4 separate regions of the Homo sapiens genome follow, and regions 1, 2 and 4 are each reported to be linked to region 3. The links are microRNA targets in miRTarBase. Many come from high-throughput screens and were not tested one by one. Region 3 holds a microRNA gene; each other region holds the end of a gene's coding sequence.

Region 1 (5,260 bases), not on the chromosome of region 3:
GAAATGTACCTAAGTTCACGGATGGGAAAGGCAAAAGGGAAATGCATTCAACAAATGTGACCAGCACTTTTCATGTGCCAGGAACTTCCCAAAGTGTTGGGGACACAATATTGAATAAAACAAAACTCTTGCCCTCATGGAGTTTACGTTCTTTCCTATATTAACAAGACTTCAGGAATGAAAAATAAAATCACACTTGGCCTCACAGAAAATAGCAGAAAAATCCAACAAAAATAAACTCAAAAGAAAAAAAGGGGGAAACAAAGTCATTTTAGATGTTCAAACTTTACCCCTGCTCAAGCAGTAGGTGAAATGAAACATCAGTTTTAAAGAAAAAAAACCCTGTAATTCTAAGCTTCTTTAACCACATGCCACTGCCCACCACTTCCCCAAAGCCCTTCCTTTGTTTCCAGGGCAGGTGACAACCCTCACTTTTTCTAGGGTGTATGTGCACCCCTGCAAAGATTCCTGCTCCAGGTAGTCAAGTCAGTCCTGTCCTGCACACACTTCATTGGTATTCAATGATGAGTGCCACCAATTTGAAGCAGGAAACCAGGACATAAGCTAAGCAACTTGACTCTTCTTGCTGCCTGGCAAATTAGCACCACAACTGGTAAAGAAAGGCTAAGCCTTAGAGACAGAGGCTCCTGCCTGGATCTCTAAGCAACTACACTTCACCCACACACATTGGAAGAATGTCAACATAGAGAGAAGAAAGGGTGGAACAGAAAGGTCTAAAGAGTGAGCCACATAGCTTCTTTTGGCAAACCAACACTCCCAAAGGAAACATTAGGGAAAATACTGTCTTCTACAACAAAAGAGAAGCTTTGCAGCTAGGATTATTTTCCAAAAGCAGTATTTTTAGGATGGAAAAATTGCCTAGGTCTATGGAATCTGAATTCTGATGACTAAACCTCTATCTCTCCAGGATGTAACATGTGAAAACTTAAGAAAGATCCCTGGCTGTCTCCCACCCTGCCTTCTCCCTACTTCCCAAAGCCTACAAACCAATCTAGACAAGTTCCTGACTGTACCATAAACCATTTCTCAGGGAGCTGGAATGCATTCATACTTGACTTCAACTTGCTGGAAGTGAGAGTGACAGCAGGCAGGAGGAGACAAGTATAACTGCCAGGGAAAGAGAGACCAAACCAGACTGCCAAAAATAACCAAGGCCTTAGCAGAAGCCTGGGCCACAGTATAACATCCTGCCATGGCCGGCAAAGGGCCTAGGGTCCAAATACTGCCCCTTTTTGAAAGGTTGACCCACATCTTAGATGAAGGGGCTGGAACAGTTAGGTGGCCTTCTACCCTGCTTCTTCCTTGTCTTTGTGGGGAAGGGAAGAAGACACTGTAGTACACAAGGTTGCTTGGGAAAATGGATTATTCTAATAAAACTTTATTTTTTCAAACACAGCCACAGAGGCAGAACCTCATGTTTAACACACACAGACTTATGGATTTTTCTTTTAATATAAAACAAAGTTTACGAAAATTTTTTTCCACTTTTTGTATTTGTAATCCCATTAGCACAGGGACTTTGGCAGCAGGTGGGAGTGAAGGGCAGCTGAGCTGCCACTGGGCAGTCACTGGGCACAGGAGGAGAGCACCAGCCTGGGGAGTGGCTTCACTCACACACACAGGGATACTCACCTACTGGCCAACCACACTACACACACAGCACAGATGCAGACATTGACCCAGTGTCAGCCACATGCCCTGGAGGTGTGCTCCACTCTGGGTAAGCCCAATATGTGAAAATTCAAATAGTCAAAACAGCTAAAGTGGAGGGAGGTTGCTTGCTTTACAAAAAGAAGCAATCATAGGCTGCTTTTAAATGGTCAGCAGTCCAAATGCATTGAAAAATAGCATTTGGTTTACACAGAACTGTTGGAACAGATCTACTGTGTAAAGCAAAATGAACCAATTCTTGAAAAGTGTTCCAGGGCCACAGGTTCTTAGATTGGGAAGCAAGATGACAGTTCTGACTAGCTTAGTTTTCCAGACTGAAAGTAATGGAATTAAAATAATGATAACTGTAGACCTTCTCCCCTAAGGATGGTGCCCTGGGGCTTTGGGGAAACCAGGATGGAGGCAGAATCACTGCCTCACTTCTTCAGCTTAGGGCCTACAGAAACTCACTGGCATTGCCAGTAACCTGTTGGAAGCTGGCACAGCCAATCTACAGCAGAGAGCCCTGGGATGAGGATGCCCCAGGAGGAAAAGAAATTGGCACCAGGGAAATTATGGCCTGAAGAGGGAGAAGAGCCAGGGGAGGAATGAAACCATAGATGGGCAACTCCTGGGCTCACAGTTTCCCTGGATTCTCTAGAGGGCCTCTCTCAGGCCCCTAGAGACCTGGTAGCCTAGTGGTAACTAGCCAGGAGATAGGGAGGAGCCTCTGAGGGCCAGAGGCTTAAGAAGACATAGCCACCTCCTCTCTGGAGTGGAGACGAGGAGGCTGAAGCCTCACTGATGCTCCTGACATGCAGGAGATCCAGAAAATGTCAGGTTCAATTCCATGAGGAAGAAAACACAAAGACCTTGGTCTTCCTCCCTTACATGAGGAACTGGGTCCTAGGAAACCCTGGAAATTGAAGAGAAAAATGCCCTTCTTGCCATAAACAAGGGCAGGTCAAATTTGGTCATGCAGGGTCTAACCACAGCTGGATAAAACCTCACAAGCTATTGTGGTGGCAGCTTCAGTATGTGTTTCCACTGGTGCCAGCCCTACCAAGGTACTTAAACCCATCACTGTGGCCACTTGGACCAGCTGTCCTGGCTCAAGTTGCGGGTGAGAAACAAAAAAGTAAATTCAATCCAATGACAACCAAACTCCCAACTGCTTCTCACAGCCTTTGCTTTATACATCCTCAGCCAATCCCTCAGTGAGCCCCAACCTCCCTATGGTCTCTCAGGCCCAATTAGAGGCAAATAAACACTTCCTGGCAGGAGTGGAAGACAAGCAAACTATTAAATGCTAAACACCCCTTCTTCCCTCTCAAGCAGGTCAAAAAGGCTGGGCCTGGATCTTGTAAGAATTGGTTTCCTGCAGTCACCTTCCCAACAGCAGTGCTGGGGTGAGCTCACCCATGTCTGCTGGGGACTGAATGCCACTTCTGTTGCAGGTCTGCCTCAGTAGATGCTGGGGACCAATATAGGGCCTTCCTACCTAGTCTATGACTTAGAAGGGCAGAGGGTGAGGGGAAAAGGGTCCCATCAGCAGAGGAGAGAGAGAGAGAGCCCCTCAACCCTGCTTCAGTTGCCCATGTGCTGTGTGCAACTCTACTCAAGAGGGCAAAAGAGGCAGGTGGAATATAGCCTGGACAATCTGATGAGAAAAAAAGGCCAGCTCAGAAAAAATATGGTGACACCCCCCACCTGCATTCCCCAATATACTAGATCGAGCTAGTGGGGAGGGGGTGGGGCTGAAGAAAAGATCATTAGCTGAAGTCACAGCACTTAAAACACCCTGCTGTACCCCAAAATGAAATCCTTTGCAGAGTCGGTGATGCTATGGATTACAAGCCTGGTTCCAGAGCTATTTAGAAAAAAGGAAAACTTGGTGCCCTCCTCTTGACTCCTTGAGCAAACCCAACATCCTGTAAAAAACTCAAGATCCTGGGGGTATCATGATACTCTGCTGTTAAGGAGCAATTGCCTTCCTTCCCTAAGGCTACGCAAACACACCTTTCCACAAGTACACTCCCATGCACGCACACACTCTCACGCAGTTTCTCTGAGGAGGCTGACTCAACCCCCCACCCTGGCCAAATTCTAAGACACAAGTGCCCTTTGAAGCAAAGGGGCTAGTGAAATTCCCCGAGCTGGGGTCGGCAGACCCCTTCCTTCCCTGCCCATTGCTCTCTTGGTGGCAGGGATACTCACACTCAGGGCCGCCATAGGAAGGGTCTGCTCTGGGGCTGTCCCTCCCGCCACCAGCTCCGTTTATCTTGTCCCGGCCAGTCTCTTGGCATGGTCGAGCTTGCTGGAGCGAGAAGATTTCCAGCTGCCCTGAGTCGGAGCCCTCCACTCACCCCCATTCCCAGGCTCGGCCCCCAGCCTTGGGGACTCGACACTTGTTAGTAGCCATGAGAGAGTCAGTCTGTGTGGCCCCAGGAAGTAGCCTCTCAGTTTTAGTTTTCCTCAATCAAATTCAAGTCCAGGTCCCCAAAGTCCCGCTGGCACAGTGTCCGCTTGCTCAGCGCCTGCCGACCCCACCGCACAGCCCCCTCCTCCTCCTCTTCGCTTTCACTCAGCACCTGGGAGGAACCCCCAGTGGGGCTGCAGGAAGCAGAGAGGGGTGGGGGGCTACAGGCCATGAACCATGGTGGAGAGATGCTGCTGCCTTCCCGGGCTGTTTCTTGGAGACAAAGACCTCCTGAGTATGGTTTCTGTCAAACAAACAAAGAAGACAGTTACACCTGAAGGCAAGAATTCTTTAGGGTGAGGTTTGTAAACTTTTTTTTTTTGAGACGGAGTCTCACTCTGTCACCCTGGCTGGAGTGCAGTGGCGTGATCTTGGCTCACTGCAAGCTCTGCCTCCCGGGTTCACGCCATTCTCCTGCCTCAGCCTCCCCAGTAGCTGGGACTACAGGTGCCCGGCCCACGCCCGGCTAATTTTTTATATTTTTAGTAGAGACGAGGTTTCACCGTGTTAGCCAGGATGGTCTCAATCTCCTGACCTCATGATCCGCCTGCCTTGGCCTCCCAAAGTGCTGGGATTACAGGCGTTAGCCACCATGCCTGGCGTTTGTAAACTTTCTGACAAAATTTGGAGCCCATTGTTTCCATTGAATTGAAGAATAGAAGCTCCGTGAGGGCAGGAACATCATCTGCAGTGTTTCATTACTTTGTACTGCCAGTGCCTAGTCAGAGTCAGTAAATGTTTGCAGATGGGATGGACGACTGTATGAAAAAATTAATTAATTCTTAAAGAGGTTTGTAACCTAGTGGTCTAGAAAGAATAATATGAAAAAAGTGAGCAAAGTGCATACATACAATAATTGTACTCACACCAGGAAGTCAAAAAACATTTGTCTAACAGATGAATACACTGTAGCAGCCCATCTTGCTTCAGCCCTCACAGACCCACTTTGAAGCAGTGACAGGCAAGTGGCAAAAACAGCTTTGGGCACAAGGAGTAGGTACTGATGGAATTTTTTGCAGCTTGTGCATTCTTGGAAAGGAGGGAAAGTACCTCTTGCAGGACAATTTGGGATCTCTGTTGGAAGGTTTAACATGGGTCTCACCCCAGTTT
Region 2 (5,238 bases), not on the chromosome of region 3:
TGTGCGACAGGCAGAGCATCTCTGGTCAGCCGGGTAGGGCAGCCTGGGGCACAGGAACAGTTCTGGGAGAGATGTGATGGGAGGAGGTGGGGCTGGCAAAGAGGCATCCAGGTCGGCATAGAAGGCAGAGGTAGATTCAGATCCAAGGAAAGAGGAGGGGAGCTGGGGTCCTTTCATCTGAGTGAAATTTTCTTGAGGGCCAGAGGCAGGAGCTGAGGCAGAGGAGCTAGGAAGGTGAGGGAGGGGGCCCTTGGCCTTTCCCACATTTCTGTGCCCCACCTTCCAGGGTGGAAGACTTACTCCTTCACCAGATGAGGCTGCTGCTAGTTCACTCAGCTGTGGGCTGTGGCCCCTTTCCTTCCCGCTCCCTGTCGACCCCTTCCCCTGTCCTCCTAGGTACCCCGTGGCCCACAGCGGGCTGTTAGAGCACAGGTCTTGCTTGTGTGGACCCTAGCCTCCAGGCCCTCAGATGCCCACTCCTTGGTGCATAGGGCTCTGGGAGAGGGTGGTCCTGCTATCTCGGCTTCTATCCCTTTTGACACTAAGATGCCTCGCTTGCCGGACCCTCAACCACACTCAACTCCCAGCTCTGTCTCTCTTAGTGGCTTGGGGCACCAATCTCCCCATCACACAGAAGTTGGATCCAGAGCTCCGCATGAGGCTGAGGATGAGCCTAGGGCTGGCCTGCCCCTAGGAGCCTCCCCCACCCCCCACCCCTCAGGGGTGGGGGGCTGCAGCACTCCCAGCCTTCTGCCTGAAGCCCGTTCCCAGCCTGTAAGCTGGGCGCCTGCTCCCTTGAATTCCCTCCCTCCCTCTCCCTTCCTGAGCGCTGAGCTGTGGAGCAGAATGATTTCCTGTAATTGGCCAGCAATCCGGCCGCCCGACTTGTTCTATCGACATGCTGGTTAGCTGGAAATTGTATTGGAATCTAAGTGACTGGGAGCGGAGGGGAAGGTGGGGAGCAAAGAGAGGCGGTTTGGGTCCCAGCTGGGTGCAGCCTCAGCTCTGCAGGTGGGATGAGGAACCACCAGCCACGTCTCTCCTGGAAGGAGCAGGAAAGCAACCTATAGCACCACATCACCTCCTTCCTTTTGCTCCTTCTCTCCCACCATGTCCGGGGGTCTCCCTGCCCACTCCTATATGACCCCATGGCCTGAAGTCATCACTGCCATCGCATTCCCCCTCCTGCTCTGAGACTGTTTCCTTCTGACCTAAAGTGCCTTGGTGAGAACTAGGGGCGCTCAGCAGCGCGCCTATCCTGCTCCCATTCAATTTCTAGCCATGGAGGCTCATCATGGAAGGTCCTAAACCTTTCCCTGCCTCTGCCCTGCCCCCCATGAGGAGAGAGAGAGAATGAACATTTGAAGAAGAGTTGTCAATTACTAAAGAGCCAAAGTGTATAATGGGGGCAGTGCAGATAGCCGGAGGAGCACTGTACTGGGAGTCAAGAAGCTTGGTGGTTATACCTGTTGGCTACTTAGGCCCCTTGGCTCAACCTCTGAGCCTCTGTAAAATTCTGGACCTGTCTGCCTCACACAGCTGGGAGATTTCAAGGGGATAACTGGAACGTGCTTTGTAAACTGTGAAACTGCGAATGACCTTCGGGCCAGTCGGGCCTGGGGGTGGGGGTGTTTTAGAGGCCTGCCTGCGCCCTTCGTCCCCCGCCCAGAAGGCGTGTGCGTCTTCACCCTCGCTGGTGTCTTATTGCTCCGCTCCGGGTGCTAAGGCCCAAAGTGAGGGAACGGAACGCGGAGGCTGCAGGGTCCCGTCGCCGTCGCGGTGGGTGGGCAGGGGACACGCCCTTTGGCACCCAGGGCCCGCAGCCCAGGCTCAGAGGACGTGGGCGAACAACGCACCTTTTGAGTTAGCGCTCAGGGTCAGGCAGAGCCTCCGCGCCCACCTGGCCCGTGCTCCCGCGGCAGCTGCTCGGCAGGAGTCTGAGGCCGCCCGCGGCCTGGGAGGAGGAAGATTAGGCCGCTCGGCGAGCGCCCGCCGCGGAGGCCCGGCCCAGCCCGGGAGGGTGCTGCCACCTGCCGGCCGAACGGCAGGCCGCCGGCTCGGGCGCGGGCCTGGGTCCCGGAGGCCCGACCTCTGCAGTTGCTGAGCGGCCTCAACTTCAAGTCCCCTTCGGAGAAAGTAGTCCTTCTTTTAAGGCCGCCTTGGACCCCCAAGGCCGGGAAGGGGATCCTGGGGCAGGGAGGCAAGAGGAGCTGGAGAGGGAGCTCTGGCGAGGCCCGGGCAGGGCAGGGCTGAATTCGAGGTTTCTCCACACCTGCCATGCTCTGACATTCCTGCTTCAAACCCAGCTCACTGGGTCAGGGAAGGTTAATTCTCTGGAACTTTACAGTTTGCTAAGGGTTTTCAGTGTCCTCCACTATGAAGCCTAACGATGTATGAGTAGAAACTAAAGGCAGGAGGTCACATGGCAAGCGGAGCCGGAATGCGAGCCCAAGGCCCAACCCCAGGCTCCAGCTCCTCCTGACAAGAGGCTCAGGGCACAGGAGAGAGTTCAGAAGCCTGGCTCTGCAACCTGGACCAAATCCATCTTTCTGAGCCTGGGATGGAAATAATCAGTGTTATGTTAACTATAGGGTCTTACACATCCAGCAGTGCCTGGCATGCTGCCGATACTAGGAAGTGCCATTTCCTCAATTATTGGGGTGATAGGGCACTGTGGGGGTCCATACCTTCCCTCTCCTTTCTCCGTCCTGGCGGATCGCACCAAACCGAGGAAGTGGCAGGCTCCTGCCACCCTCATCCTGCCTGGCCACCCACCTGGCAGCCCACCACTGCCTTACCCGGCCCTTCTTTGCCCCTTAGGGGTTTGCAGCAAGTTAATGAGCTAGACTCAGCACAAGCGGCTCTGGGAAAGGGGGCACTAAGTATGGCCACCACAGCATTTGCATCCGTCACACTCATTTCTAGCCTTAATAGGCTTCTGGCTGCAGGATCAACACATCAGCAAGTCTGCAGGCCCTGGCAGGGAAGGCTTATGTCTGCGCTGGTCTAATTGGGTTGGGGAAGGCAGATGGGGAGGCGGGGCAAGAAGGTGTGACGCTGCCTCAGCCCTCTACCCACCTCCCACAAAGGTGCCTCGGGCCTGGCTGCAGTCCTCCTGGGACCCAGGGAGAAGCCTGATGGCAAGTGCACCTTCTGGGGCCCTCACCTCCCCCTGAGCTCCGGGAGGACTCCAGCCCAGTGTGGGAAGAAGCCAAGTCTGGGAATCTTGGTTGGTCTGGGGCATTTCAGATCAACACACTTTATTAAACACCAACAGCGGGCCAGGCTCTGCACTAAGAACACAGAGATGAATAAGACACTGTCCCTGTCCCTAGAGGGCTTACAGTCTAGTAGGAAAAACCAGGCAAGTTTCGGCTAATTACTGTACTGTTGGATTAAGGTAAAATGTTGAGGGGGAGTTGGTATCCTAGACCACCTAACCCAGCCTGGGGCTTTAGACAGTGCCTGAACTGAGAGCTAGTTGTAGGTTAAAAAAAAAAAAAAAAAAAAAAAGGAAGAAGAAATAAAAGAAAATAAAAGGTATCCCAGGCCAGGAGCAGCAGGTTGAAGGCACAGAGGCAAGAAACAGCAAGGATGGTGTACACGGAATACCAAGAGGTCCAGGCGAGAAGCAGGGGTGGCAGGCAATAAGCAGGATGTGGGAGCACTACACAAACCCTACGTGGGGAGAGGGGTCTCCCAGAAGAGGCTGGTCCTGCCTGGCTACAGCGTTACCCACGAGAGAATCCTTGCTGCTTGCTGGCAGCAAGCCATACTGGGGGGCCTGGGCCTTCAGTATAAAAAATATCTCAACCTAGGGGAGGGCCTTGTTGACTGTTTGAACATGGAAACCCTTGGTCCAACATGATTTCCCGTGGTCCACTGAGGAGGTTTAGGCCACAATGGGGTAGGTGCTTAGAGAGGATTCAAGCCCAGTGAACCCTTGGCCTCCCAGCTCTGAGGAGGGCCACAGAGCCAGTATTCCCTACCCCCACCCACAGAAATGTATAGCAGTCTCTGACTGTTGCTTTCACACACCATCACGGTTGCTGTTCTGTAGGTGCTGCTCAGGGAAGGTGGGAAGGACAGCAGGCTATTTCTTGATCTCAAATAGGATACACTCCAAAGACGGGATGGCCTGGCACAGAGGCCCAGCCCTGATTCGGAGAGTCCGTGTGTGTGTGTGTGTGTGTGTGTGTGTGTGTGTGTGTGTGTGTGTGTGTGTGGGGAGGGGGCTGAGAGGAAACAGGATGTGTTACCTGGCTTCAGCCTCCAAGGAGATAGATGGAGGCCTGGGGCTCCCTGCCTTGAGTGCCCCACTAGGCGTAAGGCAGAAGGTAGTGGGTGAGCAGGTAGAGGAGGCTGGCAATGGCAGCGAGCCCTGTGAGGACCCCAAACCTCAGCGGCAGGTACTCCAGGGAGCGCTCCAGCTCAGTGTGCAAGAGGATGACCTGGCGTTTGGTGACACTCCACTCGCCCGAGTTGTCTAGGACATGGCGGGCCATGCGGGCCTTGTCTGTCAGGGGCAGCTGGGCATTGATGCGGGCCTCTGCGTCCTTGCGGTTCAGGCTGTTCCGCCGCATCAGCCGTGCCAGCTGTGTGTCCCGGTCGCTAAGGATAGGGCAAAAGGGCACTGTAGGTCCTGCCTCCCTCTCACCCCAAGTTACAGGGATAGGCAGCCCTGCCAGGCCCAGCCTGAAACAGAGAGCATGGGGACTGGATCTTCCCTCCAACCCTACCCTGCTCTGGGCTACTTAGGGTCCCACAGCCAGGGAGGGAGGCTTGGAAGCTCACTGGCTGCCTCACACCCCACTCCACTCACTGTGAGGAACCCAGAGCTCTATGGGCTACGGAAGCCCCTTAATACAAACAAGGGGGGAACTTTGGCCACAGCTCTTTTTTTTTTTTTTTTTTTTGCCATCTGGGGTCTCTTTGCTTTGCTACTAGACCTGACATTCCCCAGTCATAAGGTGGGAAGATTTCATCACCTGGAACCAGCTACATCCTGGATCCCTGGATGGGTGACCTTTACTGAAAGGCCTATGCCTATGAGCTAGACGCTTCCTGCAGTTCCCCTGGGGGCCTGGGTCTTCAGTATCAAAAATACCTCCTTGGGCCATCACAGAGACCCCCTCTCCTTGCTGCTATACCCCTCCCCTGAACATTTAGAGTAAAAGGATTGTGCTAAGATGGTATCTCTTGTGCTTAATGCCACTGATGATGTGGGACAGACAAGCC
Region 3 (5,287 bases):
GGCAGCCACCTGTCCCCATGTGTTCTCCCCATGCCTGTGGTCAGAACAGCCCAGGCTACTTGGAGGTGATGTCTGCGTGTCACCAGCGGGCGGCTGATGCCCTGGTGGCAGGGGCCATCAGCAACGGGGGCCTCTACGTGAAGCTGGGCCAGGGGCTGTGCTCCTTCAACCACCTGCTTCCCCCCGAGTATACCCGGACCCTGCGCGTGCTAGAGGACAGGGCCCTCAAGCGGGGCTTCCAGGAGGTGAGTGTGCGCTCAGGCCGAGGGAGGTGGGGCCTCCAGCAGTGGCCCCAGGCTGCTCTGAGCACCTGTCCTTCCAGGTGGATGAGTTGTTCCTTGAGGACTTCCAGGCCCTCCCCCACGAGCTCTTCCAGGAGTTTGACTACCAGCCAATTGCTGCCGCCAGCCTGGCACAGGTGCACAGAGCCAAGCTGCACGATGGCACCAGCGTGGCTGTGAAGGTATATGGGGGCTGCCTTGTTCAGCAGTGGGCTGGGGCGGGGCACAGTGGGGCCCCAAGTTCTCACCACACCCTCGCCCAGTGCAGGTGCAGTACATCGACCTGCGGGACCGCTTTGATGGGGACATCCACACCCTGGAGCTCCTGCTGCGGCTCGTTGAGGTCATGCACCCCAGCTTTGGCTTCAGCTGGGTCCTCCAGGTACAGCCCCACCCCTTCCCCGGCCAGCAGGAGCAAACACGTAGGCAGAGCTGGTAGGAGCAGCTGGTAGGCAGAGCTGGTCTTCAACCGCCATCTGGCCCCCAGGACCTGAAGGGGACCCTGGCCCAGGAGCTGGACTTCGAGAATGAGGGCCGCAACGCAGAGCGCTGTGCGCGGGAGCTGGCGCACTTCCCCTACGTCGTGGTGCCCCGCGTGCACTGGGACAAGTCCAGCAAGGTGGGCTGGGCCAGGCCCTTGGGGTGGGCACAGCGCTGGGCCTGCTGAGCCCAGCCTCTTGCTCTCCCCAGCGCGTGCTCACTGCCGACTTCTGCGCCGGCTGCAAGGTCAACGATGTGGAGGCCATCAGGAGCCAGGGGCTGGCAGTGCATGACGTGAGTGCGGGGGGGCGGGGGCGGGTCAGGGCGGGCTGGTGCTGTGTCCACTGCAATGCCTCTCCTCTCCCCAGATAGCAGAAAAGCTCATCAAGGCCTTTGCTGAGCAGATATTTTACACCGGCTTCATCCACTCGGACCCACATCCTGGCAACGGTAGGAATTTACCCCAGGGGTGGGGGTCTCAGGGTGGGCGCAGCGCGACCTAAGAGGCTGTATCCCTAGTTCTGGTGCGGAAAGGCCCGGACGGGAAAGCGGAGCTGGTGCTGCTGGACCACGGGCTCTACCAGTTCCTGGAGGAGAAGTGAGCGCGGGTGGGTGGGCGTGGGGCAGGGCAAGCCTCTCCTGCCGCAGGGAGCTCATGGCTGCGGGCCCATCCACACCCAGGGACCGCGCAGCCCTCTGCCAGCTGTGGCGGGCCATCATCCTGCGGGACGACGCCGCCATGAGGGCGCACGCAGCCGCACTGGGGGTGCAAGGTGAGGGCGTGCGGGGATGGCTGGGGCACCACAGAAGGGAGTCGGGCGGCGCGGAACCCACTCAGAGCCCCCTCCCTCCCTCCCTCCCTCCCTCCCCAGACTACCTCCTGTTCGCCGAGATGCTCATGCAGCGCCCCGTGCGCCTGGGGCAGCTGTGGGGCTCGCACCTACTGAGCCGCGAAGAGGCGGCCTACATGGTGGACATGGCCCGCGAGCGCTTCGAGGCCGTCATGGCGGTGCTCAGGGAGCTGCCGCGGCCCATGCTGCTGGTGCTGCGCAACATCAACACCGTGCGCGCTATCAACGTGGCCCTCGGCGCCCCCGTGGACCGCTACTTCCTTATGGCTAAAAGGTCGGTGGCCCGAGGAGGCGCCCGGGCCGTGGTGGGGCTGGTGTGGGGCTGACGCGGCGCTAACGCGGGTGTGTGCAGGGCTGTCCGGGGCTGGAGCCGCCTGGCGGGCGCCACGTATCGGGGTGTCTACGGCACCAGCCTCCTGCGCCACGCCAAGGTCGTCTGGGAGATGCTCAAGTTTGAAGTGGCGCTCAGGTGAGTGGCCGCGGGGCAGGTGGGTGGCGGGGGCCTGCTCCCCACCCACCTGTGACCTGTGACCTGACCCACGCAGGCTGGAGACCTTGGCCATGCGGCTGACCGCCCTCCTGGCTCGTGCTCTGGTCCACCTGAGCCTCGTGCCCCCAGCGGAGGAGCTCTACCAGTACCTGGAGACCTAGGGTGCAGCCGCCCAGGGCCGGCGGGGCCCTTTTCACCTTGGGCTGACGGAGGTGGCGGGGCTAGAGGTGTAGACACCCCGAGCCCCGTGGGCACTCGCACTGGGGGGCTGTGACAGCAGCTGGGCCAGGAGGCCGTGTAATGACCACACACTCCTCTCAAGCAAAAAATGTTTTTCCTTGTGTTTTGTACAAAAAGGGGGTGGGAGGTAGTTCCGTGTGCTGGTGGTGACGGCATCCACGGGGCTAGAAGTGGGCGGTGACGCGGTCCGTCTCCAGCAAGTCGTCCAGGATCTGCAGGGGATGGAAGGGTGGGTGGGTGGGTGGGTGGGGATGCACACGGAGGGGCGGGGCGCGCGGGGGGCGGGGCGCGCACTCACTATGTCTGGTGTGGTGCCGATCTTCTTGGCTAGCTCGCTGCGCTCCATGGTGCTCAGGTACAGGTAGCGGTTGAGCAGCTCCCCATCCAGCACGTTGCGCACGGCATTCTGGAGGGTGCGGCGGTCCACGTGCAGCATCCTGGGGCGTACAGGCACAGGTGTCAGGGCAGGCTGGGGTGGAGGGGGTGCTGCACGGGGGCGGGGCCGGGGCTCACCGGAAGGCGCGGGGGTTGAGGCCGGCGTGGTGTGGCAGCATGGTGGTCAGCGCGTTCTGCAGCATCAGCAGCCGCCGGTAGGTCTTCTCCTGCATGGGCAGCAGCAGCCCGATGCCGCCGTCCAGGGTGGCTGGCAGGGGTAGGGTGAGGGTTTTGGTGTGAGCCAGGCCAACCCTAGGGCCCCCCACCCAGACACACCTGCTCCCCCACACTCACCAAACCACGTGATGTGCTTATTCTCCCACACGACCGACTTTTTGCTGAGCCCTTCAGTGGCCCCCCGGCACGGGGTCCTCCAGAACGTGTTCACGTGGGCACCCACGTGGAAGTCTGCCCGACGCAGCAGGCGCATGCCCCCGAAACTCTCCTTGGCTAGACCAGAAAGGCCTAGGGGTCACTGCTAGCCCAGCCCCGGCCCAGGCAGAGGGGGTGGAGGAAGCACTCACCTTCGGGCAGGTACATGTACACCATGAGGTTGCGGTCGCGGTCAGACACTGGGGAGCAGAGGCCCAGGGTCAGCCCCGGCCACCCCCAGAGCCTCAGCTCCCCAGGGCCCTGCCCACATACCCAGAAAACCCAGCTGGGCATTGTCCACCATGAAGTCCACGCTGTACACCTCCAGGGGCTTGGCATCCTGGGGGCGGGAAGGGGGCGTCAGAGGTGCCTTGGGCGGGTACCCACCCAGACACGAGCACCGCCGCCACAGGTGTACCCGCGACACCAGGCTCAGCGTCTTGCTTTCCTCCTGGTAGCGCAGCAGCGAAATGCTCTTCATGACGTCGGCTGCCAGGATGAAGTTCTTGACGCTGATCATCTGGTGTATGTAGAGCTGCGTGTCGATGAAGGCCATGCCCGTCAGCTCGCTGGCCCGCAGGCTCCACAGGAAAATCTGGGGGCGAGGGCGAGGGTGAGCGGGCGCGGACGGGGAGCCGGGTGAGGGTGAGCCGGGGGACACACGCCGGGTGGGACTGGCACACCTTCTGGCCGATGGCCGACACCAGGTGGCCATTGCAGTGGCACAGGGCGGTCACGGGCCCCTTCTGCTCCTTCTCGTAAAGGACTTTGAACTTGTTCTTGGTCAAGGGCTGGCCAGGCTCGGGCACCACCTCAATCACATCCATGATCAAGATCTGGAGGGCATGGGTATGGCTGTGGGATGGCTGTGGGGATGGCAGAGGGGCTGCCAGTTCCCGCCCCCGCTCACTGGCCCCTTACCCGCCCTCGGCACGTGACCTCCTCCCCCTGCATGAGGCAGGTCCCGGCGGCCACGTAGCCTTTGAGGCCCGACACGGTCTCCTCACTGCGCAGAGACACTGTCTTCATGCAGGTCACATGCTCCCACTCCTGCAGCTCGATCCTGTGGGGGCCAGGGGCCTCAGGATGCTGCCTGGAGGCCTTGGGCAGACCCCACCCCCGCCGGCCCAGCCTCACCTGGCATTGGGAATAGCCTCCCAGCTGACCGGGGAGATGAGCTGGATGGAGAAGGCCTCCTGCTGGGGGTGGATGTACCGCTCATCTGTGGGGACCAAGGGTGACAGTCAGAGTAGGGCTTCCCCAAGATGCGGCTGAGGATGGGAGTATGGTGTGGGCGTCACCACCTCTCTCGATGGTCTCAAACTCCTTCTCCTCGCCAGTCATGCGTGGGATGCGGGCACACGGCGTGTTGGTGCTGGTGGCCACAGCATACACCTGTGGGTTAGTGAGGGTCACACACCAGTGGCCCGGCCAGGCCCAGAAGGTCCCTGGTGGGGTGGGGGTGGGGGCAGACCTTAGACTCCACGTGGTAAGCCACATAGTGGGCCGTGCAGCGCAGCGGGATCTTCCTGACAGGCCATGGGGCATCATAGGACAGGTAGGCAGGCAGGACACTGATCCTCAGCTCGCCCTGGGGTGGGGGCACAGGGGTCAGGGGATCCAGGGCTAGCCAAGGGCAGGGGCAGGCAGGCCCAGGCCGCCAAGAGCCCTGGGATGTTGCCCTCAGCTCTGTGGGAGCAGGGGTGGGTGAGGGGCAGCTGTGTCCTGGCGAGGTCCTGGAAGGGGCTGCCACTCAGCCTCTGGGGCTCCTCCTGTCCATTTTCCCACGCTCAGCTGGGGCTAGGGGTGCTGGCCACAGGGGATGGGAAAGCTAGGCCAGGAGGGCACTGGAGGCTGCAAAGGGCAGCCCACAGACTGCCATGCTGGGGACTGAAAACCAGGCAGAGGGAGCCAGGGCTGCCCTCTTTCATGGACAGTCCTGAGTCCTCAGGCACCCAGGAAGCACTCACCGCATCCCAGGCAGGGTCTCAAGTGACCTGGTGGTGTGGTGGCTTAAATAGGGAACCAGGATGAGAAAGCCTGTGTGCCCTCCCAAAGTCACAGAGCAGCCAAGGGGCAGAGCTAGCACTCACGTCAGCTCTCCTGAGAAGTGTGGAGGCCAGGCCCTGCGAGGGCTT
Region 4 (5,232 bases), not on the chromosome of region 3:
TGTCCTGAGTGTCCCAGGCTTTCCTGTGCCGTCCACCTGGAGCAACCCACGAGGTGTCCTTCCCCGCTCCTCCTCCCACAGAGGGCAACCTGCACAACCCCGCCCTGTTCGAGGGCCGGAGCCCTGCCGTGTGGGAGCTGGCCGAGGAGTATCTGGACATCGTGCGGGAGCACCCCTGCCCCCTGTCCTACGTCCGGGCCCACCTCTTCAAGCTGTGGCACCACACGTGAGTTGCCCCCTAAGGCAGAAGCCACGTTGGAGGGCCGCCCAGGCAGATTCCGTCAGACCCCACCTGGGGCATTTTGCAGGTTTTGTCAAAACAACTTGCTGCTAAGTCAGGTCTTGAGGGGCTGGGGTGACTTAGGAGTGGAGTTGGGCAGGAAGAGACACAGGTCCCCGTGTGCCCAGTGCTCAGCCTGGGGCCTGACGGTGGAGCCGGGAGCCCAGCCTGCGTGACAGGGCCTCTGTCTCAGGCTGCAGGTGCACCAGGAGCTGCGAGAGGAGCTGGCCAAGGTGAAGACCCTGGAGGGCATCGCTGCTGTGAGCCAGGAGCTGAAGCTGCGGTGTCAGGCAGGTGCTGGGGCTGGTGGGAGCCCGGCCTTGCAGGGGGTGAGGGGCTGGGGCCATGACCAGGGCCTTGGGCTTTTGCAGGAGGAGATATCCAGGCAGGAGGGAGCGAAGCCCACCGGCGACTTGCCCTTCCACTGGATCTGCCAGCCCTACATCCGGCCGGGGTGAGAGCCCAGCCAGCCCTGGGCGGGGATGTGCACCAAGGTGTGGGCTCCACCCTGTGCCCACAGTGCTGCGCCTGCCCTGCTTGTCCTCAGCCATTATGGTCAGTCATCTCCTGCCCAAGGGAAAGGAGGAGGGAGGCCTCGGCTCCGAGCAGCACACACCTTCCACGTGCCCCTCGGTGTCCTTGGTGGAGGATGCTGGTGGCTCAGCTGTGTCCTCCCTCAGTGGACGCTCGGATTTTAAATCTTTTCTTCCATAACATACTTCTCTGAGCTCCTCTGATCCTGGTGGATTTGCCCGTGGGTCAAGAGGTTGACCCCAGCTTCTGCTGGGTTCTCAGAGGTGAGGCCATCCGTGGCCACAGCCCTCCCTGGAGCTGGTGGTTCAGAGCTTGGGGCTGCCCGAGCTGCGGACTCCATCTCAGAGGCCCCGGACTCCCTAGTGACGAGTCCTGAATGGGCTGCCCGAGGGAAAGGAGGGCACTCCTCACAGCAGCGGCACTCGCCACGGCCGCCTGGCCCCTCACCCAGACTCAGACCCGTGTGGCTGTGGCTGCTGGGCCCCTCTCACAGTGTCCTTGGGCTCTGCCCGCTGCCCTCCCCTCAGGCCCAGGGAGGGGAGCAAGGAGAAGGCAGGTGCGCGCAGCAAGCGGGCCCTGGAGGAAGAGGAGGGTGGCACGGAGGTCCTGTCCAAGAACAAGCAAAAGAAGCAGCTGAGGAACCCCCACAAGACCTTCGACCCCTCTCTGAAGCGTAAGTGCTGCTTCCGCTGATGGGCCCGAGAGAGCCTCTTCATCACCCCCATCCTCCCTGTTGCCAGTAACAGGAACCCAGACTTGTGGTCAGCAAGGCTCAAGGCCCAGAGCTGGAAGCAGACACCTGGAGGGCTTGGCGGAGTAGTCAGCCAGACTTGGGGTCAGAACGGGGACCCTGTGCAGGCCACAGCCCGTGCATGTGGGACATGGGCTCAGTGAATCAGATGAGGCTATGGGACAAGCTTTTCAGCCAGGTGAAGCTCGTCTACAGCTCAGGGCCTCGGGTCCCTGCGGCTGCCCCTGCCCAGCCTCACACAGGACACCTGAGCAGCTGCTGAGAGGGAGGCTGGGGTCCCCGGGAGTGTGTGCATGGGTCTTGTTGCTGGGCCAAAGGCACGGGACGAGGCTGCTCGCCCCTCTCTTAGCCACCAGTGGCAAGGCCTCAGCCTAGTGCTGTCTCCCCTGAGACCCCTGGTCGCCGCCGTATCCTGGGCCAGCCCATCTGGGCCCTCAACAGGTGGCAGCCTCCCAGATCTCTGACAACTTTACAAGCTGCAGGGGAGACCAGCGATAACCCTGAAACCTTCCCATGTAACCCCCAGGGCGCTGGCCAGTCCAAGAGCAGCTGCCACATCAGGCTGGTGCCAGCAGTCCCTGCCTGCCACACTGCCCCCCACCAGGCCACTGAATGAGGCAGCTGGGAGAGGCAGGAAGTGGGGCTTCAGGCTGAATTCTTGATTTGACCCTTCTTGGCCCTTTTGCTTGGGAGACCTGGAACTGAAGGGCATGGAACCCCCCTTGGACCCTGTGGGCAGGAAAACTGCTCCCCTTGTCCCTGCCTGGGGGTAGGACAGATAAGGCTGCTCGTCCTGCGGCGGCCCCCCAGCCCACCTGCTTCCTATCCGTTTCCTGCAGGATGGTGCCCCCTGCATCCCCTCACCCATTGCTCACGGAAGGAAAAGCAGACGTGGCCAGCCTGCATCCTCTGCCCTCCCTGAGCCTCCTGGCCTGGCTGGCCACAGCTGGCATGGACGCCATCAGCAGGCTCCGTGCAGGCGGACGGGGCAGCCCCCACAGCCAGGGCACCCTGGCCCTCACTCACCAGCACCCTTTTGTTCTTTTCCTAGCAAAATATGCAAAGTGTGACCAGTGTGGAAACCCAAAGGTGAGTGGGTTCCGGCTGCAAGCCACCAAGGCTTCAGCTTTGGGGGTGGGCAGGGTGGTCTCTGCACTGCTTGGGGTGGCAGGTCTGGTGCCCGCCCAGCTGGGTTTGCAACGTGGCTCAAGGTGGCATGGATGCCTCAGGACGGCCCCTTGCTTCCAGCCAAGCCCCTGCCCAGGCCTGGAGGGGAAGAGAGTCTGGGTGGGTGGGGGTGAGGGAGAGGCATCTGGCTTGGGAGCAGTTCCCAGGGCTGCATCCAGGCCGTGGGCATCTGGCAGAGGCTTCCCCAGTGGGGCTGCTCCCCTGCTGGCCAGCCTGGCCCCGGGAGTGGTGCTGGCCACAGGCTCCCGAGATTTCCTGTGCCCAGGGCAACAGATGTGTGTTCAGCCTGTGCCGCGGCTGCTGCAAGAAGCGAGCCTCCAAAGAGACTGCAGACTGCCCAGGTGAGGGCGCCTACCACCCGCCCCGCAGCAGGCAAACAGACCCCCTCCGCCTCCTGACCCCCGACTCCTCTCACTCGCTCTGCCAGGTCACGGATTGCTTTTTAAAACCAAATTGGAGAAGTCTCTGGCCTGGAAAGAGGCCCAGCCTGAGCTGCAGGAGCCTCAGCCAGCAGCACCTGGAACACCAGGTGGCTTCTCCGAAGTCATGGGCAGTGCCCTGGCCTGAAGGCCCACAACCCCCACCCCCAGGACTGCTGCTGGAGCCTGGACACGTCCTACTTAAGAAAATGCCTTTTACTCAGGGAATCTCCTGCTACTTAATGTGGAAAGACACGCCCATGTCCCCCTTCGGCCCACTCTGGGGGCCTGGAAATGCTGCAGTGGGGAGCAGGCCCCAGGCTGGACCTGCCCTGTCCTCAGCACGCGTGTGCAAAAGTGAACAATAAATCATTTCAAAGATGCGAGAGCCCACAGCCTGTGACCACTGCCCTCTCAGACCCAGGGAGGCATGAGCCGGGGCAGGTGCGGTTGGGGCCAGTGGGGGCTTCTGAACAACAGGATACATCTAAATGAAGGCAGCATCTGGGTAGACAAAAGTGGGGGCTTAGGTCCCCTCCCCACCTCCCCTAGGCGCCTCCATAGGCAAGTGGCCAAAGCCTCCGGGAGCTTCGTGATGCCTCACAGCCTTGGAAGCACCGCCTGCGAGGCCACAGTGGCTGCTGCTGGGGGCTGTTGAATCTGAGGGCCAGGCTTCTCATTTCTCTCACCAGGCCCTGCCTCCAAGCCTAGTCCCAGGGAGACAGCCCTCAGGAACCCAAGGCCACCCAGGGGTGACCAGAGCCTGCACGGCAGGAAAGAACAGCCAAGAGCAACGCTGAGTCTGCTCTTTAATGGACACCGCCCACTTGTCTGCACCTGACTGAGGCGGGAACAGGAGGGGTCTGGGAAATGGTGCCACTGGGCCTGGGTGCCGCACAGTCTGCTCCCTGGGGACAGAAACCCACAGGGTCGAGCCCTGCAGGCCTCTCCTTCCAGGAAGGGCCACAACTAGCAGCCGCCTGCCTCCTCAGCCCCAGGGAGGGCACACAGGCTGGGTGGCACCCAGTGGCCAGGCCCCTTAGCTGGGCCGCAGGCAGCACTGAGCCGCCTGGAGGTCCGAGGTCCGTGGAGGTGGGGAGGGGGTGCAGATGTCCTGGAGGCCAAGGTTCACCCCTCACATGTTGGTGCTCATCCGGGACTGGCTGTTGGCTGGAGTCAGCTCCCCCTGGCTCCCTTCTCTGGGCGGGGACTGCAGGGGAGACAAGGAGCAGCTCACAGCCACCAGGCCCCACACGCCGTGCGCCTGCCCCCCCTCAAGCCAGCCCACCTTGACATGGATCTGGTTGCGGAGCACAGCTGCCCGCAGCATCATGGCCTTGGCGCGGCGCTGGAACTCCTTGCCCATCAACAGAGACTTCTCAAAGGTGGTGCTGCGCTGATCCACGTCCCGGGCGTATAGGATCTGTGCAGGCACAAGCTCAGCGGGGCCCAGGCTCACCCCCAGCTGCCCCCACCGCCCCGCAGCCCACAGCCACCTTGCTGTGTGAGTCCACACGGGCACTGATCAGCCCCTCCAGGATTAGCTGCGTCAGCTCGTCCTCCAGGGCGGCCACCGTGGTATTGAAGGCTGCCGCCATCCTATGCATGTCGGCTGACACGTAGGGGCTGAAATACTGCAGGGCAGAGGGAAGTCAGCTCCACAGCCCCCTGCATGCCCGCCTGCCGTGTGCCAGCCTGACCCCCACGCTTACCTGGATGAGGGCACGGTTGCGAATCTGGGTGTACAGGGTCCTGACATGGGGGGCCAGATACATGTCCAGGAGCAGGTTGTCCTGGGGAAGGGGCTGGTCAGGACCAGGACAGGAGGCCAGGCAGGGCCCCACCTCACCCCTACCCCAGGCGGGGCCCACCTTCATCTCGTCCAGCATCTTGAGACATGAGGCGTACTTGGACTCGTAGAATTTGAAGATGATGTCTCGGACCTGTGGCTCCAGCTCCAAGAACAACTTGAAGGAGCTGGTGAGGCAGACCCCTCAGAACTCTGTCCTCTGCCTGCCCCTCCCTCCAAGTGGCCAGTGGGACACCAGTCCCCAGACAAA

What was found. The annotated mature microRNA hsa-miR-939-5p reads UGGGGAGCUGAGGCUCUGGGGGUG and lies in region 3 at 3,382-3,405, opposite strand. An mRNA with a match to its seed (bases 2 to 7 or 8) in the 3' UTR can be bound and repressed. Matches are read on the target gene's strand: a 7mer-m8 pairs with bases 2 to 8, a 7mer-A1 pairs with bases 2 to 7 and ends in A, and an 8mer does both.
Region 1: the mRNA of FAM53C is a reported target of hsa-miR-939-5p. Seed matches in the 3' UTR shown: 7mer-A1 at 3,413-3,419 and 7mer-A1 at 1,616-1,622.
Region 2: the mRNA of DCAKD is a reported target of hsa-miR-939-5p. Seed matches in the 3' UTR shown: 7mer-A1 at 4,225-4,231 and 7mer-A1 at 3,684-3,690.
Region 4: the mRNA of GPS1 is a reported target of hsa-miR-939-5p. Seed matches in the 3' UTR shown: 7mer-A1 at 4,266-4,272.

The regions. Positions count from the first base shown.
Region 1 is chr5:138,345,836-138,351,095 of GRCh38, reverse strand. FAM53C (family with sequence similarity 53 member C) reads right to left here. Exons shown (of 5, transcript NM_016605.3): 5 at 1,367-4,394. The coding sequence ends at 4,137. Among named protein-coding and RNA genes, the nearest start is that of KDM3B, 4.2 kb to the left of the region's middle.
Region 2 is chr17:45,020,114-45,025,351 of GRCh38, forward strand. It overlaps DCAKD (dephospho-CoA kinase domain containing), which reads right to left. Exons shown (of 5, transcript NM_001288655.2): 5 at 3,231-4,611. The coding sequence ends at 4,320. Among named protein-coding and RNA genes, the nearest start is that of DCAKD, 29 kb to the right of the region's middle. RefSeq lists a silencer at 1,919-2,268.
Region 3 is chr8:144,390,812-144,396,098 of GRCh38, forward strand. MIR939 (microRNA 939) reads right to left here and starts at 3,419; the gene lies at 3,338-3,419. ADCK5 (aarF domain containing kinase 5) reads left to right here. Exons shown (of 15, transcript NM_174922.5): 5 at 45-245; 6 at 323-463; 7 at 550-663; 8 at 769-900; 9 at 972-1,055; 10 at 1,130-1,211; 11 at 1,281-1,359; 12 at 1,443-1,534; 13 at 1,634-1,886; 14 at 1,965-2,081; 15 at 2,158-2,431. The coding sequence ends at 2,263. CPSF1 (cleavage and polyadenylation specific factor 1) reads right to left here. Exons shown (of 38, transcript NM_013291.3): 27 at 4,624-4,740; 28 at 4,454-4,544; 29 at 4,287-4,371; 30 at 4,071-4,212; 31 at 3,833-3,985; 32 at 3,568-3,744; 33 at 3,423-3,489; 34 at 3,302-3,349; 35 at 3,072-3,227; 36 at 2,856-2,985; 37 at 2,641-2,779; 38 at 2,420-2,554. The coding sequence ends at 2,507. RefSeq lists silencers at 3,370-3,531, 4,884-5,097.
Region 4 is chr17:82,056,203-82,061,434 of GRCh38, reverse strand. It overlaps GPS1 (G protein pathway suppressor 1), which reads right to left. Exons shown (of 13, transcript NM_001321092.3): 9 at 5,044-5,149; 10 at 4,885-4,965; 11 at 4,669-4,806; 12 at 4,461-4,595; 13 at 3,965-4,382. The coding sequence ends at 4,308. DUS1L (dihydrouridine synthase 1 like) reads left to right here. Exons shown (of 14, transcript NM_022156.5): 8 at 82-226; 9 at 474-570; 10 at 652-734; 11 at 1,342-1,487; 12 at 2,617-2,654; 13 at 3,019-3,094; 14 at 3,181-3,929. The coding sequence ends at 3,320. Among named protein-coding and RNA genes, the nearest start is that of GPS1, 6.9 kb to the right of the region's middle.